2 linked regions of the Homo sapiens genome follow. The protein of the gene in region 1 purifies or fractionates together with the protein of each later gene. This does not show direct contact. Each region holds a gene or a part of one and is shown on either strand. Other genes may lie near its edges. The genes, in order: MCUR1 and CPT2.

Region 1 (7,193 bases):
CCTTTCTTCACCCTTTAACACTCTTCAATTACGGAGAATAGTAGTTTGATTAGTGGAAGTTGACATTCCCCCATCAGTGTTTACTAGTAAGAGTATCAGTATGCTAAAGGTCACATCCAGGAATGTTCCAACTCCTTTGTTCTCTCTTTGACCTGCTTGCACCGGGGACAATGAGCCCTTGACCTTTCTGTTACTACCTGCTAAAACAGACCCAGTAGATCTTTCAGGGATAGCTCTGGCCATCTTCCATCTCTTTTCTCCTGATGACACCTAGAATATATAAGGCCACCTAAACTTCTCACAGATGGTGGCTAAGTCAGAGTCTGCTCTGTGAATCCAGCTTTACTCATGGGAGGTCCCTAAGTCTAGATACAGAGAGAGAGTAAGATGGCCCCACTTTGGCCCCAGATCCAAGTATATTCACCAATCCAACTTTGTCATAAAGTCCAACTTTGTCATGGTTCACATGGGGGTTGTCTGGCTCCTGCCTGATCCATTAATTAGTTGATACTTCTTCTTCTTCATTGGCCATTAGATTCCTGTATCTAGTCTCTCTATACATAGACAGAAGTCTAACATGTCTAGATTATCCTAATGTACACTAATGTATCCGGGATAGGAATCAGAAGCCCTATCCCAGCTGGTTTAAGTAAAAGCAACTTATTGGATTACATAAATAAAATGCCAATTTCAGCCTAAGCTAGAATCAGACGCTCAAAAGGACCCGTCTCTTCATTTCTCAGTCTTCTTTTCTTCATAAGGGCTTTAGTCTTAGGCCACATGGTAGCCCCAGGAGCTCATGGTTCAAATCATCCTATACCTAGACATCACAATAAAATAAGACGACCTCTTCCCAATAGTTCCTATTAAGAACCCTAGAATTGGGCCAGGCGTGGTGGCTCACACGTGTAATCCCAGCAATTTGGGAGGCTGAGGCAGGCAGGTCACTTGAGGTCAGGAGTTTGAGACTAGCCTGGCCAACATGGTGAAACCCCGTCTCTACTAAAAAATACAAAAATTAGCTGGGCATGGTGGTGCTTGCTTGTAATCCCAGTTACGTGGGAGGCTGAGACAGGAGAATCGCTTGAACCCAGGAGGTGGAGGTTGCAATGAGCCAAGATTGAGCCACCACACTCCAGCCTGGGCAACAGAGTGAGACTCCATCTCAAATAAACAAACAAAAAAAGAATCCTAGAATTGAAGCTTTTTTTTTTTAGATGGAATTTCACTCTTGTTGCCCAGGCTGGAGTGCAATGGTGCAATCTCAGCTCACCGCAACCTCCACCTCCTGGGTTCAAGCAGTCCTCCTGTCTCAGCCTCCCAAGTAGCGGGGATTACAGGCATGTGCCACCACACCCAGCTAATTTTGTATTTTTAGTAGAGACGGGGTTTCTCTAGACTGGTCTCCAACTCCCGACCTCAAGTGATCCGCCCTCCTTGGCCTCCCAAAGTGCTGGGATTACAGGCGTGAGCCACCGCGCCCGGCTGCTCATTAACTCTGATTGGGTGACATGCCCATGCCTGTGGTCTGCAGAGCGATCAGTCTCTCCAAACCGCATGGACTGAGAGCAGAGAAGAGCCACTGCCCATGGAAAACTAGGGTGCTGAGACCAAAAGAAAGGGAATGCTTTGGAAAATAAAACAACAGGTGTCACATCCAAGGAAAAGTGGATGCTATCCAACCTGTAGTTAGAACTGACATTCATTATACTCCTATCATAGGCCAGGCACTGTGCTAAGTGCTTTACATATGTTATTGTATTCAATATGGCTGGTAATAGTAATACATGAAAAGTTAGTCAACATCATTAGGCATCAGGGAAATGTTATGTTAAAAATCACAATAAGGTACCATTTTATGAGGACTGAAAATATCAAAATTTGGCAAGGATGTGGAACAACCGAAACGCTCATCTATTGCTAAGAGTGTGAAAGGGTGCAGTCGCTTTGGAAAAACAATTCAGCAGTGTCTAAAGTTAAGCTACCATATGATTCAGCAATTTGACCCAGATACTTTCCCCAACAGGGATAAAAATTATGTCCACACAAGGTCTTATACAAGAATGTTCATAACGCCCTATGCATAATAGCCAAAAACTATAAGCAAAGCAAATGGCCATTAATAGAATGGATGACCGCTTGTGGTATGGTCATACAATGGAATACTATTCAACAATTAAAAGCAACTAATTACTGATACAACAGCATGGATGAATCTCATTGATATTGAAGTCAGACGCAAAGCAGAAGAAAGACACAAGGCAATGCATATTGTAGGTCTCCATTTACATGAAGTTCAAAAAAAGACAAAACTAATCTATGGTCATTGAAATTTGAAAATAGTTGGCCGGGCGCGGTGGCTCACGCCTGTAATCCTAGCACGTTGGGAGGCCGAGGCGGGCAGATCACAAGGTGAGGAGTTCGAGACCAGCTTGGCCAATATGGTGAAACCCCGTCTCTACTAAAAATACAAAAATTAGCCAGGCGTGGTGGCAGACACCTGTAATCCCAGCTACTCAGGAGGCTGAGGCAGGAGAATTGCTTGAACCCGGGAGGCAGAGGACACAGTGAGCTGAGACTGCACCACTGCACTCCAGCCTGGGTGACAGAGCAAGACTCCGTCTCAAAAAAAAAAAGAGAAAATAGTTGCCTTGGGGTGGTGGTGGATTGTCTGGAAAACTGGCACAAAATAACTTTCTGGAGCAATGAAAATGTTCTAGATCTTGACTGGGTGGTATATACAACTGCTAAATGTCATCAAGTTGCTAAATGACATTTATCAACTGCTAAATGTCACCTAAGTCTGTGGAATTTACTGTATGCAAATTATACCTCAATTTTTAAAAATTACAAAGGACTAACATTAAAGTTTGTGCCACAGTTTAATCGTTCCTCTAATGTTGTGCACTATTTTCCCATTTTTTCACAATCACAAATTATGATACAATGACTATCTTTTGTGCATATGTGAAATTACCAATATTAAGCATTTTGACCCATAAAAATGACAAGTTTGTATAGTCAAACCTAGTAGATATTTAATATTTTGGATTATTCCCATTATCCCCATTTTTAGTTAGGTGACTTGAGAAAAGTTTACAAATTTTTGTTGATACTCATTGCTAAACTGCTTTTTCTACCAATTTTATAAATGTATACTCCTTTTACAAAAGTGTCTTAGGTTGGTGCAAAAGTAATTGCGGTTTTTGCCATTACTTGCAATGGCAAAAGCCGCAACTACTTTTGCACCAACCTATGACTTGAATCCTGTTTTTCAGTTCTTCAAATTTTGATAGACACTTATCTTGCACATCCATATGCACGCTCCTCTCTTCCCAGCACTTTGTACATCTCTCATGGCTCATAACACATTCTTCCATCACGTATGTGTACACATATGGCTGTATAGGAAAACAGCTTCTGGAGGATAAGAACAATTTGTTTTGCGGTTTTTTATTTTTAATAAAATCTCCTAGCTTGGTGCCTTATGCATTTCATTTATTTATTCAACTAACATCTTCCAAATTCACATAAGGGACCAGTTATCTGTGAATGGTGTAACAGGCCTTCAAAAAGTCCACGAAACTAAACATTACCAGTTTCAAATATACCCGACAGGTCTCATTTTAACATTCATGCCCCACGTTTTAAGTTCCCAGATTGCTACCTTCCCATGTTTTTGGTGCTCTAATCTGGAAACAAAAACTCTGAAAATTTAGTTTTGAATGTATTATGTGAGGGCCTTTCCCTGGGCCCTGCTAATAATTCCTTAAAATGCTCCCCAGAACCACATGTTTGGGGACTTAGGATAATCAGTGAAATCTAGGGCAGCCTGTCGGTCTGAGACTTTTCACAGGACTCTGAAGGGCACCGGGGTAATTCCTTTTTAAGGACAGCAGTGCAGTGAAAATGCAAATCGTGACAGCAACAAGCTCCTTCCAGTTCCGGAGTGCCCGCAGGCTCCTCCCGGTCGCCGCCGTCGCCTAGCGAATGGGGTGGGGGCTCGCACGGTCCCCGCATCTCGGAGCGCCACGGCGGGCTCCTGCCGCCCCGCCCCACCCCACCCCCGGCGCGCGTCCCGAGCCCCGCCCGCGCGCCCGGCAGGAAAGGGCGGTCCTGCGCTGTGGCCCACGCTCGCTCCCGCTGTCGGACTCTGGGCCTGGACCGCGCGTGGCCGGCGCCAAAAGCGAGAGGCATGAGCGCGCGCCCGGGCCAGTGAACTGCTCGGGGATGGACTGCGGCTCGGTCGGCGGCCAGAGGACCCAGCGCCTGCCCGGCCGCCAGCGGCTTCTCTTCTTGCCCGTGGGCCTCAGCGGAAGACCGGGCGGCAGCGAAACCTCAGCACGCCGCTGCCTCTCTGCGCTCTCCGACGGTCTGGGGGCGCTGCGCCCTCGCGCCCCGGCGGCCCGCGGCGGCGTGTCACGTGCCTCACCGCTGCTCCTCCTCCTGCTAGTGCCCTCCCCGCGCTTGGCCGCCGCAGCCCCGCGCCGGCAGCTCGGGGACTGGGAGCGCTCGCGCCTCGGGTATGCCGCACCCCCGGCCGGGCGCAGCAGCGCGTGGAGGTGCTCACCGGGCGTCGCCGCTGCCGCCGGCGCCCTTCCCCAGTACCACGGCCCGGCGCCTGCACTCGTTTCCTGCAGGAGAGGTGAGGCCCGGGCGGGAGAGGAGAGGGGGCTCGTCTCGCGGGGTTGGACGGCGGGGCGGGGATCTCAGCTACAGCCTCCCCGAGGAAAGGCCCGGCAGGCCGGAGGGCGGGTCCTCCAAGGCCACCGGCATCTGCCCGGAGCGTGGGTCGAAGGTCCGGGCCCGCCCTGCTCGGCCGCGGTGGCGGGGCTTAGCCCAGAAGAGACGAATTCCTGGGAATCCCGGGCGCTAAAGTTGGAGGGAGGTGCGTGCTGGGGCGGGGAGTTGGTGCCCGCCCACTCCTAGGGTCTGCTTTTGGGCGCCGCCTTCCAGGAGTTCTGTTTGGCAGCGCCCAGCCTGTTGGGCGTTCAAGGGGAAGGGGTGTGTATGTTTGAGCAGCAAAGCTCTGGGAAATGAAGGGATTGCTTTACAGTTTGATTTCAAATTCTGATGGAATCATTAATTCGTGGAGTCCTAGCGTCTGCCCTGTCCCTGGCGCTTTTCTAGATGTGTGAGATATATCAGTCCACAAAATCTTCCCTCTGGAGCTTAATTCTAGCAGAGCAGACGCAGTAAATATGTGTGTGTGGATATACGTATGCATAATTGATGTATATATAATTTATATATACAAATAATTTTTATATATTCGTAATTCGATGCCTGGTATAGAAAAATAGGATAAGGCTTGGGAAGTGGAATGGGTCTCCAGTTGTGAATTTAAATAGGGTGATCAGAATCGATTTCATTGAGAAGGTAGCATTTAATTAGAGTCATGCATCTCTTCAGGACAGTCGCCTACTGAGAAATGAGTCATTAGGCGACTTCTTCCTTGTGTGAATATTGTAGAGTGTGCTTACACAAACCTGGATGCTACAGCCTACTACACACCTAGACTATCAGGTAGAGGCTAGTGCTCCTAGGCTACAAACCTGAACAGCATGTTACCGTACTGAATACTAGAGGCAATCTGAACACAATGGTATTTGCGCATCTAAATGTAGAAAAGGTAGAGTAAAAATATGTATTATAGTCTCATAGACCACTGTCGTGTGTGCCCCTCTGTCCTGGGCTGAAAGGTAGTTGTGGGGCTCATGACTATTTAAAGGAGGTGAGAGAGATCACTGCCCTGGAGATGAGGAAAGTAAATAGAATCAATTTATTAGATAGCATATTGTTGATTAAAGAAAAAAATCATTTCTGATAATCAACAGACTTGGCAAAATTATCACTTTGGGCAGTCTATACATATTCATTAGTAGCCATCACTAACTACACATTTTTCATATTTTCTTCAACAGATAGGCCCACTAAATGTTGACCATATCTATAATTTAAGAATATCATTGGCTGGGGTAAAAACTGATTAGTAGAGCAATAAAGTGAAGGAAACTTTATATACAGAGAGTGGGGAATGAGTAGTGAACTCGGTGTCACTGTCCTTCAGTAATTAGGAGTCGGAGATGAGTTTGGTCTTTATTCTGTATTTTGCCTTTTGTTGCGCTTTTTCTGACAAGCTAGTAATTTCCAATTTGTTTTTCTCTCAATGCAAGAGTATAGGGCAAAAAGAGAGTGTTCTTTCTCACGGATTTGCTGACCAATCGGTAAGGTGGTACTGTTGTTTTAGTGTCAGCTATCTCATTCTTCAGTCATCATAAAAAATGAGTATGGATGCATAAAAACAGAAGAGAGCAGAGACACAGTTAAGGAAGCATGTATGCCCATTAACCAGCCAATGAGCGTTTCCCAACCATTTGTTTGCTTGGTGCCTGAGGTTCTCGGTTGAGCTACTTAAGGATGTCATGAGTAGGAAGTTTGTATTTGGTTTCCTCATCCTGTCCAAGGCTACCTTTGGGCCTCTATTGTAATTGTGGGTTTTTAATATTCTCTTGATATGCTGAAGGTCCCCAGAAAGGGGAATTGCATGTTACACGTTGACACAGCTCAGTTGGCTCGCTTCCTTATGATCAGTGAGGAGTCTGGGAGTTGGCGGTGTCCTCAGGTACTGCCCTTTGACAGAAGGCCAAGAGGGCATTTCCTTCCCTCATCAGGGGTTGGAGTGACCAATGGAAAGTGGCCAGCCCTTCTGTCGACCTTTCAGAGGCAGGATTTCTTGGAAATAAGCTTGCTGTTTCTGGTTCCAATCTTTTTGAAAAAGAACAACAATAACAAAAAAACTGTAGTATCCAAATTGGCGTTACAAAGTAGTCATGTGATTGTTTTGTTTATGTGGGGGTGGGGGTGAGGAGGTTATGTTTTAAATACATGAATGATTATTTTCTTACTAGAAACAAGGAATTTAGGTCTAGAGTAACCCTGTCACTCTTCACAAGTCATTCCAGACTCAGGTGTTTTCGAGCTCCCTGACACATGGGGCAGTCCAGTAGAGTTCTGGGGCAGGTGAGGTGGTCCTTAGGAGGTCCCCTGGAGAAGTGCTTTCATTCCTTCACTCCCACTGTTTCTCAGGCTAGGTCTCTTCTGTGTTGGGCAGACATCCTGGGTCTCTTCTCATGGAGGCCAGTTTTAGTCTCAGGACTGGAAATAAACTAAAAAAGAGGTACCAGATTTAA
Region 2 (7,277 bases), on another chromosome or scaffold:
GCTGGAATGAGTTAAGACTCTGGGGCACTGTTGGGAAGACATGGTTGTGTTTTGAAATGTTAGAAGTACATGAAATTTGGGAGAGGCCAGGGCAGAATGATGTGGTTTGGCTCTGTGTCTCCAACCAAATCTGATCTTGAATTGTAATAATCCCCAAGTGTCAAGGGAGGGACCTAGTGGGAGGTGATTGGATCATGGGGTAGTTTCCCCCATGCTTTTCTTGTGATAGTGAGTTCTCATGAGATCTGATGGTTTAAAAGTGTTTGGCAGTTCCTACTCCTTGCTTGTTCTCTCTCCTGCTGCTGTGTAAGATGTGCCTTGCTTCCCCTTTGCCTTCCACCATGATTGTAAGTTTCCTAAGGCCTTCCCAGCCATGCGGAACTAAGTCAGTTAAGCTTCTCTTCTTTATAAATTATCCAGTCTCAGGTAGTTCTTTATAGCAGTGTGAAAACAGACTAATACAGTGATCCAGCTAAACTGCTTCCCTGGGTTGCCCCTAATGGTAGTGTAGTTGGGTTAGCTTCCCTAGGGAGGCTTTTCCAGTAAACTGCCAAAAGGTTGCTAGTGTTGTAGAAGGCAGGGTAAGTAAGGGAAGAAGGTTTGAGATCTCAACTGTGATTCAGGTCTCCCAGTTTTATTTTATTTATTTATTTTTTGAGACAGAGTCTCATTTTGTCACCCAGGCTGGAGTGCAGTGGTGCGATCTCAGCTCACTGCAACCTCAGCCTCCTGGGTTCAAGTGATTCTCCTGCCTCAGCCTTCTGAGTAGCTGGGACTACAGGCACGTGCCACGACACCTGGCTAATTTTTTGTATTTTTAGCGGAGACGGTGTTTCACCATGTTAGCCAGGATGGTCTTGATCTCCTGACCTCATGATACACCCACCTCGCCCTCCCAAATTGCTGGGATTACCAGCATAAGCCACTGCACCCAGCCCCCAGTTTTATTATCTCCAGAGAGTAAAACTTAAGTCTTCTACAGGAGTGAGGAGGGAATCTCAGGTTGTGGTAGTGGTGATATAATTGAATAGTCCTTCAACCAGATGTATCTAGGTTGCCAATTACTGAGCCCTCTGGGGGTTCTGCTGTGCAAATCATATGATTTCTTGGCTTTCTCTCCTGCCAATTTAGGATTGGCTTTCTTGAGTCTGCTTTAGTCATTACCAGTTGCATAAGTGCTTTCCAGCTTCCAGTATTTGTTTTCTCGTCTCCCATTCTCTTGGCCTGACTGGTTTATGTCTCTTTGAAATTCTTTTGCTAAAGGGGGGTCAGAGGCATGAATTTATGTCTTCTTTCATCAAATATATCTTATCCACCAGTACTTTTCTCTCACCATTTTAGTGCATTGCGTTATGTTTTAATTATTTGCCTCCTTCACCAGAGTTTTTCAGAATCAAAGACCATGTCCTATTCCTCTCTAAATCCCCTGGACCAAGGCCTGGCACAGCACTGATTCTCAAGGGATGGAATGAGTGGATGGACCAACAAATGAGTAACAGAGAAATCTGCATCTATTAATCCTTTTCCCAGTGCTATACATATGAACATTATTTGCCTGAATGATAGTCCTTATTTATAGAGTTTATTCATGTTTACTAATCCCAGCAGGAACTTTCCCTGACATATTTTCTGATAAAATATTGCTTCTGGAATTTTTACAGGTAAAACATCTATAGGAACTCAGAGGGCTAGTCTGAGTGATCCATGCACTGATATTTATAATAGCTTTTTTAGTACTTTCTAAACAGGGAGTGTACAAATGTACACTGTACATAGAAGGACAATGAAGACGTTCCCCCCTTATCGGGGAGCAATCAAGTATGATTGTTGCCCCTGAAAGGAGATGAAGCAAGAGAAACCTAAAGAGATGGGGTGGGAATTAACTATTCTGTTCCAGCATGAATGCAAGTGGAGTGTTACCATATTTTATTCCTTTAAACCAAGAAAGGAAACAGAAGAGGAAGAAAAAGCAATTAATAAACATTAGGAAAATGCAAACCAAATCTGCAATGCTATACTACTTTACACCTACCAGAATATCTCCACGCCACAAGACATGTAACAAGTGCTGCTGAGGATGTGGAAAAATTGGAACCCTCACAGACAGCTCGTGGGAATGGTGCAGCCACTTTGGAAAACATCCTGGCAGTTCCTCAAAGGTTAAACAGAGACTTACCATGTGATAGTAGTTCCACTCCTAGCTATGTCCATACAAAAACATGTATAAGAATGTTCATAACAACATAATTCTTAATAGCTAGGTGCAGTGGCTCACACCTGTAATCCCAGCACTTTAAGAGGCTGAGGTGAGAGGATTACTTGAGGCCAGGAGCTTGAAACCAGCCTGAGCAACATAATAAGACCCCATCTCTACCAAAAATAAAAAAATTAGCCAGGCTGGTGGTGTGCATCTGTAGTCCTAGCTACTTGGGAGGCTGAGGTGGGAGGATCGCTTGAGCCCAGGGTTCAAGGCTGCAGTGAGCCATGATCATACCACTGCAATCCAGCCTGGATGATAGAAATCCTGTGTCTCTTAAAAAAAAAAAAGGCAATGTAATTCATAATAAAGAGTGGAAACAGTTCAAATGTCCATTACCTGATGAGTGGATAAACAAAATATAGTATATCCATATAATGGAACATTGTTCAGCGCTAAGAAGAAATGAAGAACTTAAATGCTACAACATGGATGAACCTTAAAAACATTATTAGGAGGCCGAGGCGGGTGGATCACCTGAGGTCAGGAGTTTGAGACCAGCCTGCCCAACATGGTGAAACCCTGTCTCTACTAAAAATCCAAAAATTATCTGGGCATGGTGGAGGACGCCTGTAATCCCAGCTACTCAGGAGGCTGAGGCAGGAGAATCGCTTCAATCCGGGAGGCGGAGGTTGCAGTGAGCCGAGATTGCAGCACTGTTCTCCAGCCTGGGCGACAGGAGCGAGCCTCCGTCCCAAAAAAACAAAACAAAAACATTATTGTAAGTGATAGAAGCTAAATGCAAAACACCATATATTGTATGACCCCATTTGTATGTCTTGAATTATTGCAGAGCAAAAACATTCAGGGAATTCTTCTCTCTGGAGGTTGATGCCATTTCCTTTGTCTATGCTTGAATTTTTTTTCTTCTTCAAATTTTATTTTTAGGGACAGCATTAACATTTTATGTTATTTTTTTCTTTTTATTTTTTAGGACCCTGGTTTGATATGTACCTATCTGCTCGAGACTCCGTTGTTCTGAACTTTAATCCATTTATGGCTTTCAATCCTGACCCAAAATCTGAGTATAATGACCAGCTCACCCGGGCAACCAACATGACTGTTTCTGCCATCCGGTTTCTGAAGACACTCCGGGCTGGCCTTCTGGAGCCAGAAGTGTTCCACTTGAACCCTGCAAAAAGTGACACTATCACCTTCAAGAGACTCATACGCTTTGTGCCTTCCTCTCTGTCCTGGTATGGGGCCTACCTGGTCAATGCGTATCCCCTGGATATGTCCCAGTATTTTCGGCTTTTCAACTCAACTCGTTTACCCAAACCCAGTCGGGATGAACTCTTCACTGATGACAAGGCCAGACACCTCCTGGTCCTAAGGAAAGGAAATTTTTATATCTTTGATGTCCTGGATCAAGATGGGAACATTGTGAGCCCCTCGGAAATCCAGGCACATCTGAAGTACATTCTCTCAGACAGCAGCCCCGCCCCCGAGTTTCCCCTGGCATACCTGACCAGTGAGAACCGAGACATCTGGGCAGAGCTCAGGCAGAAGCTGATGAGTAGTGGCAATGAGGAGAGCCTGAGGAAAGTGGACTCGGCAGTGTTCTGTCTCTGCCTAGATGACTTCCCCATTAAGGACCTTGTCCACTTGTCCCACAATATGCTGCATGGGGATGGCACAAACCGCTGGTTTGATAAATCCTTTAACCTCATTATCGCCAAGGATGGCTCTACTGCCGTCCACTTTGAGCACTCTTGGGGTGATGGTGTGGCAGTGCTCAGATTTTTTAATGAAGTATTTAAAGACAGCACTCAGACCCCTGCCGTCACTCCACAGAGCCAGCCAGCTACCACTGACTCTACTGTCACGGTGCAGAAACTCAACTTCGAGCTGACTGATGCCTTAAAGACTGGCATCACAGCTGCTAAGGAAAAGTTTGATGCCACCATGAAAACCCTCACTATTGACTGCGTCCAGTTTCAGAGAGGAGGCAAAGAATTCCTGAAGAAGCAAAAGCTGAGCCCTGACGCAGTTGCCCAGCTGGCATTCCAGATGGCCTTCCTGCGGCAGTACGGGCAGACAGTGGCCACCTACGAGTCCTGTAGCACTGCCGCATTCAAGCACGGCCGCACTGAGACCATCCGCCCGGCCTCCGTCTATACAAAGAGGTGCTCTGAGGCCTTTGTCAGGGAGCCCTCCAGGCACAGTGCTGGTGAGCTTCAGCAGATGATGGTTGAGTGCTCCAAGTACCATGGCCAGCTGACCAAAGAAGCAGCAATGGGTGAGGCAGGGGTGGGGAGCATGCCCTTGGGTCTTGTCCTCAGTGCTTGGGTAAGCAAGCCTAAATCATTCTACTCCAAATCTGATTTCTACCCGTTCACTAGGTTTAATCCATCGCCAACTCCCCAAATTTTTCTTTTCTACCCTAGCAGTCTGAACAGCCACACTAGCCACTAGGGATCAGAATGTTCTTGCCTCCTAAGCAGGGGTGGGGAAATGCATGTGTCTTTGTCCTCATTTAAGGTCACTTTCAGCTGTGACGCATTAATTCTTTTTTCTTTCTTTTTTTTTTTTTTTTTTGGAGACAAGAGTTTCCCTCCGTCCAGGCTGGAGTGCAATGGCGTGATCTCGGCTCACTGCAACCTCCACCCCCAGGTTCAAGTGATTCTCCTGCCTCTGCCTCCCAAGTAGCTGGGATAATAGGCACCCGCCACTACACCTGGCTAGTTTTTGCATTTTTAGTAAAGAAGGGGTTTTGCCATTTTGGCCAGGCTGGTCTTGAACTCCTGACCTCAGGTGATCCATCCCTCTCAGCCTCCCAAAGTTCTAGGAATACAGGCGTGAGCCACCGCACCTGGCCTTTTTTTTTTTGGAGACACGGTCTCATTCTGTCACCCAGGCTGGAGTACAGTGGTGCAATCATGGCTCACTGCAACCTCAACTTCCTTGGCTCAAACAATCCTCCTGCCTCAGCCTCCCAAATAGCTGGGACTATAGGCATGCACCACCATGCCCAGCTGATATTTTAATTTTTTTTTTTTTTTGAGATGGACTCTTGCTCTGTTGCCCAGGCTGGAGTGCAGTGGCACAATCTCAGCTCACTGCAACCTCTGCCTCCTGGGTTCAAGCGATTCTCCTGCCTCAGCCTCCTGAGTAGTTGGGACTACAGGCTTATGCCACCATGCCCAGCTAATTTTTATATTTTCAATAGAGACGGGGTTTCACTATGTTGGCCAGGTTGGTCTCAAACTCCTGACCTCATGATCTACCCGCCTCACCCTCCCAAAGTGCTGGGATTATAGGCGTAAGCCACCATGCCGGGCCTAATTTTTAAAATTTTTTGTAGAGATGAGGTCCCACTGTATTGCCCAAGGTGGTCTCAAACTCCTGGGCTCAAGCAATCCTCCTGCCTTGGCCTCCCAAAGCACTAGGATTATAGGCATGCACCACTGCACCCAACCTTTTTCTATTACTGATTGGTTATCAGACTCACTTTTGAAAATTTAGGATTTCTAAACTTACGGCCCCACTAGCTTCACCTCAGTTGTAATGTGTCTGCTCTCTGTAAACAGGTTATCTCAGAAGCTCTTCTCAATTGTCATCCGTCATTACCTTTTTTTGATAAAATTCAAGACCTGGAAAGGACCTGGAGGGTCATAGTTGTCCTTTCATGTTGCTATGAAGTGCTGGAAGTGAAAGGGACCTCCAAGACATTCTAATCTTCTCTTCCTCCATTTTATAGGGAGAAAACCAAGCCACTGGCCCCGTTACACAGCAAGTTAGTAGTAAGACTGAGATTCGAACCCTGGTCAAACAGACTTTCCATTTTGTTCCACTGACTCAATCTTCTCTTTTACACTTGAATCAGACTTTTAGTTTTATTGTAGTTTTTGAGTCCATAGCTGTCTTCCTGTACTGTCTTGACTCTTTGACTAAACTGATTTCACATCTTTAAAATTATGCTTTCCTTTTAGGCTCATTTTTAGCTCAGCTGTTGACAGCTATTTTTAAATGTAACATGACATAATATATTTCCTAAATAATTTAAAATAATCTAGCTTGAGCTGCTCTGAAGGTTAGTCAGTTGGTGGTGTGCATAGAGGTAGAGCCTTCCCCCACTCTCAAGGATGCTGTGAGGGGTATTCCTACCATGTGGTGAGTTGGGAGGTTTTCCTGAGGTCCTTTTCCATCCTGAGACTCTGGTTTTCCATTTTGTTTCTCACAGGCCAGGGCTTTGACCGACACTTGTTTGCTCTGCGGCATCTGGCAGCAGCCAAAGGGATCATCTTGCCTGAGCTCTACCTGGACCCTGCATACGGGCAGATAAACCACAATGTCCTGTCCACGAGCACACTGAGCAGCCCAGCAGTGAACCTTGGGGGCTTTGCCCCTGTGGTCTCTGATGGCTTTGGTGTTGGGTATGCTGTTCATGACAACTGGATAGGCTGCAATGTCTCTTCCTACCCAGGCCGCAATGCCCGGGAGTTTCTCCAATGTGTGGAGAAGGCCTTAGAAGACATGTTTGATGCCTTAGAAGGCAAATCCATCAAAAGTTAACTTCTGGGCAGATGAAAAGCTACCATCACTTCCTCATCATGAAAACTGGGAGGCCGGGCATGGTGGCTCATGCCTGTAATCCCAGCATTTTGAGAGGCTGAGGCGGGTGGATCACTTGAGGTCAGGAGTTTGAGACCAACCTGGCCAACATGGTGAAACCTTGTCTCTACTAAAAATACAAAAATTAGCTGGGTGTGGTGGCATGTGCCTATAATCCCAGCTACTTGGGAGGTTGAAGCAGAATTGCTTGAACCCAGGAGGTGGAGGTTGCAGTGAGCTGAGATCACACCACTGCACTCCGGCCTGGGCGACAGAGCGAGACTGTCTCAAAAAAACAAAAAAGAAAAAAAAACTGGGGCCTGTGTAGCCAGTGGGTGCTATTCTGTGAAACTAATCATAAGCTGCCTAGGCAGCCAGCTACAGGCTTGAGCTTTAAATTCATGGTTTTAAAGCTAAACGTAATTTCCACTTGGGACTAGATCACAACTGAAGATAACAAGAGATT

The links.
Region 2: the proteins of MCUR1 (region 1) and CPT2 purify together in Homo sapiens (affinity purification with mass spectrometry; 2 studies listed by BioGRID and IntAct, with this or other methods). This does not show direct contact.

What each region holds. Positions count from the first base shown.
Region 1 is NC_000006.12:13,811,467-13,818,659, reverse strand, and holds the start of MCUR1 (mitochondrial calcium uniporter regulator 1), read left to right. Parts: upstream 1-4,102; 5' UTR 4,103-4,230; coding exon 4,231-4,645; coding exon of another isoform or gene 4,646-4,888; intron 4,889-7,193. UniProt on the Homo sapiens protein: Key regulator of mitochondrial calcium uniporter (MCU) required for calcium entry into mitochondrion. Plays a direct role in uniporter-mediated calcium uptake via a direct interaction with MCU.
Region 2 is NC_000001.11:53,206,824-53,214,100, forward strand, and holds part of CPT2 (carnitine O-palmitoyltransferase 2, mitochondrial isoform 1 precursor), read left to right. Parts: intron 1-3,191; coding exon 3,192-4,496; intron 4,497-6,440; coding exon 6,441-6,772; 3' UTR 6,773-7,277. UniProt on the Homo sapiens protein: Involved in the intramitochondrial synthesis of acylcarnitines from accumulated acyl-CoA metabolites.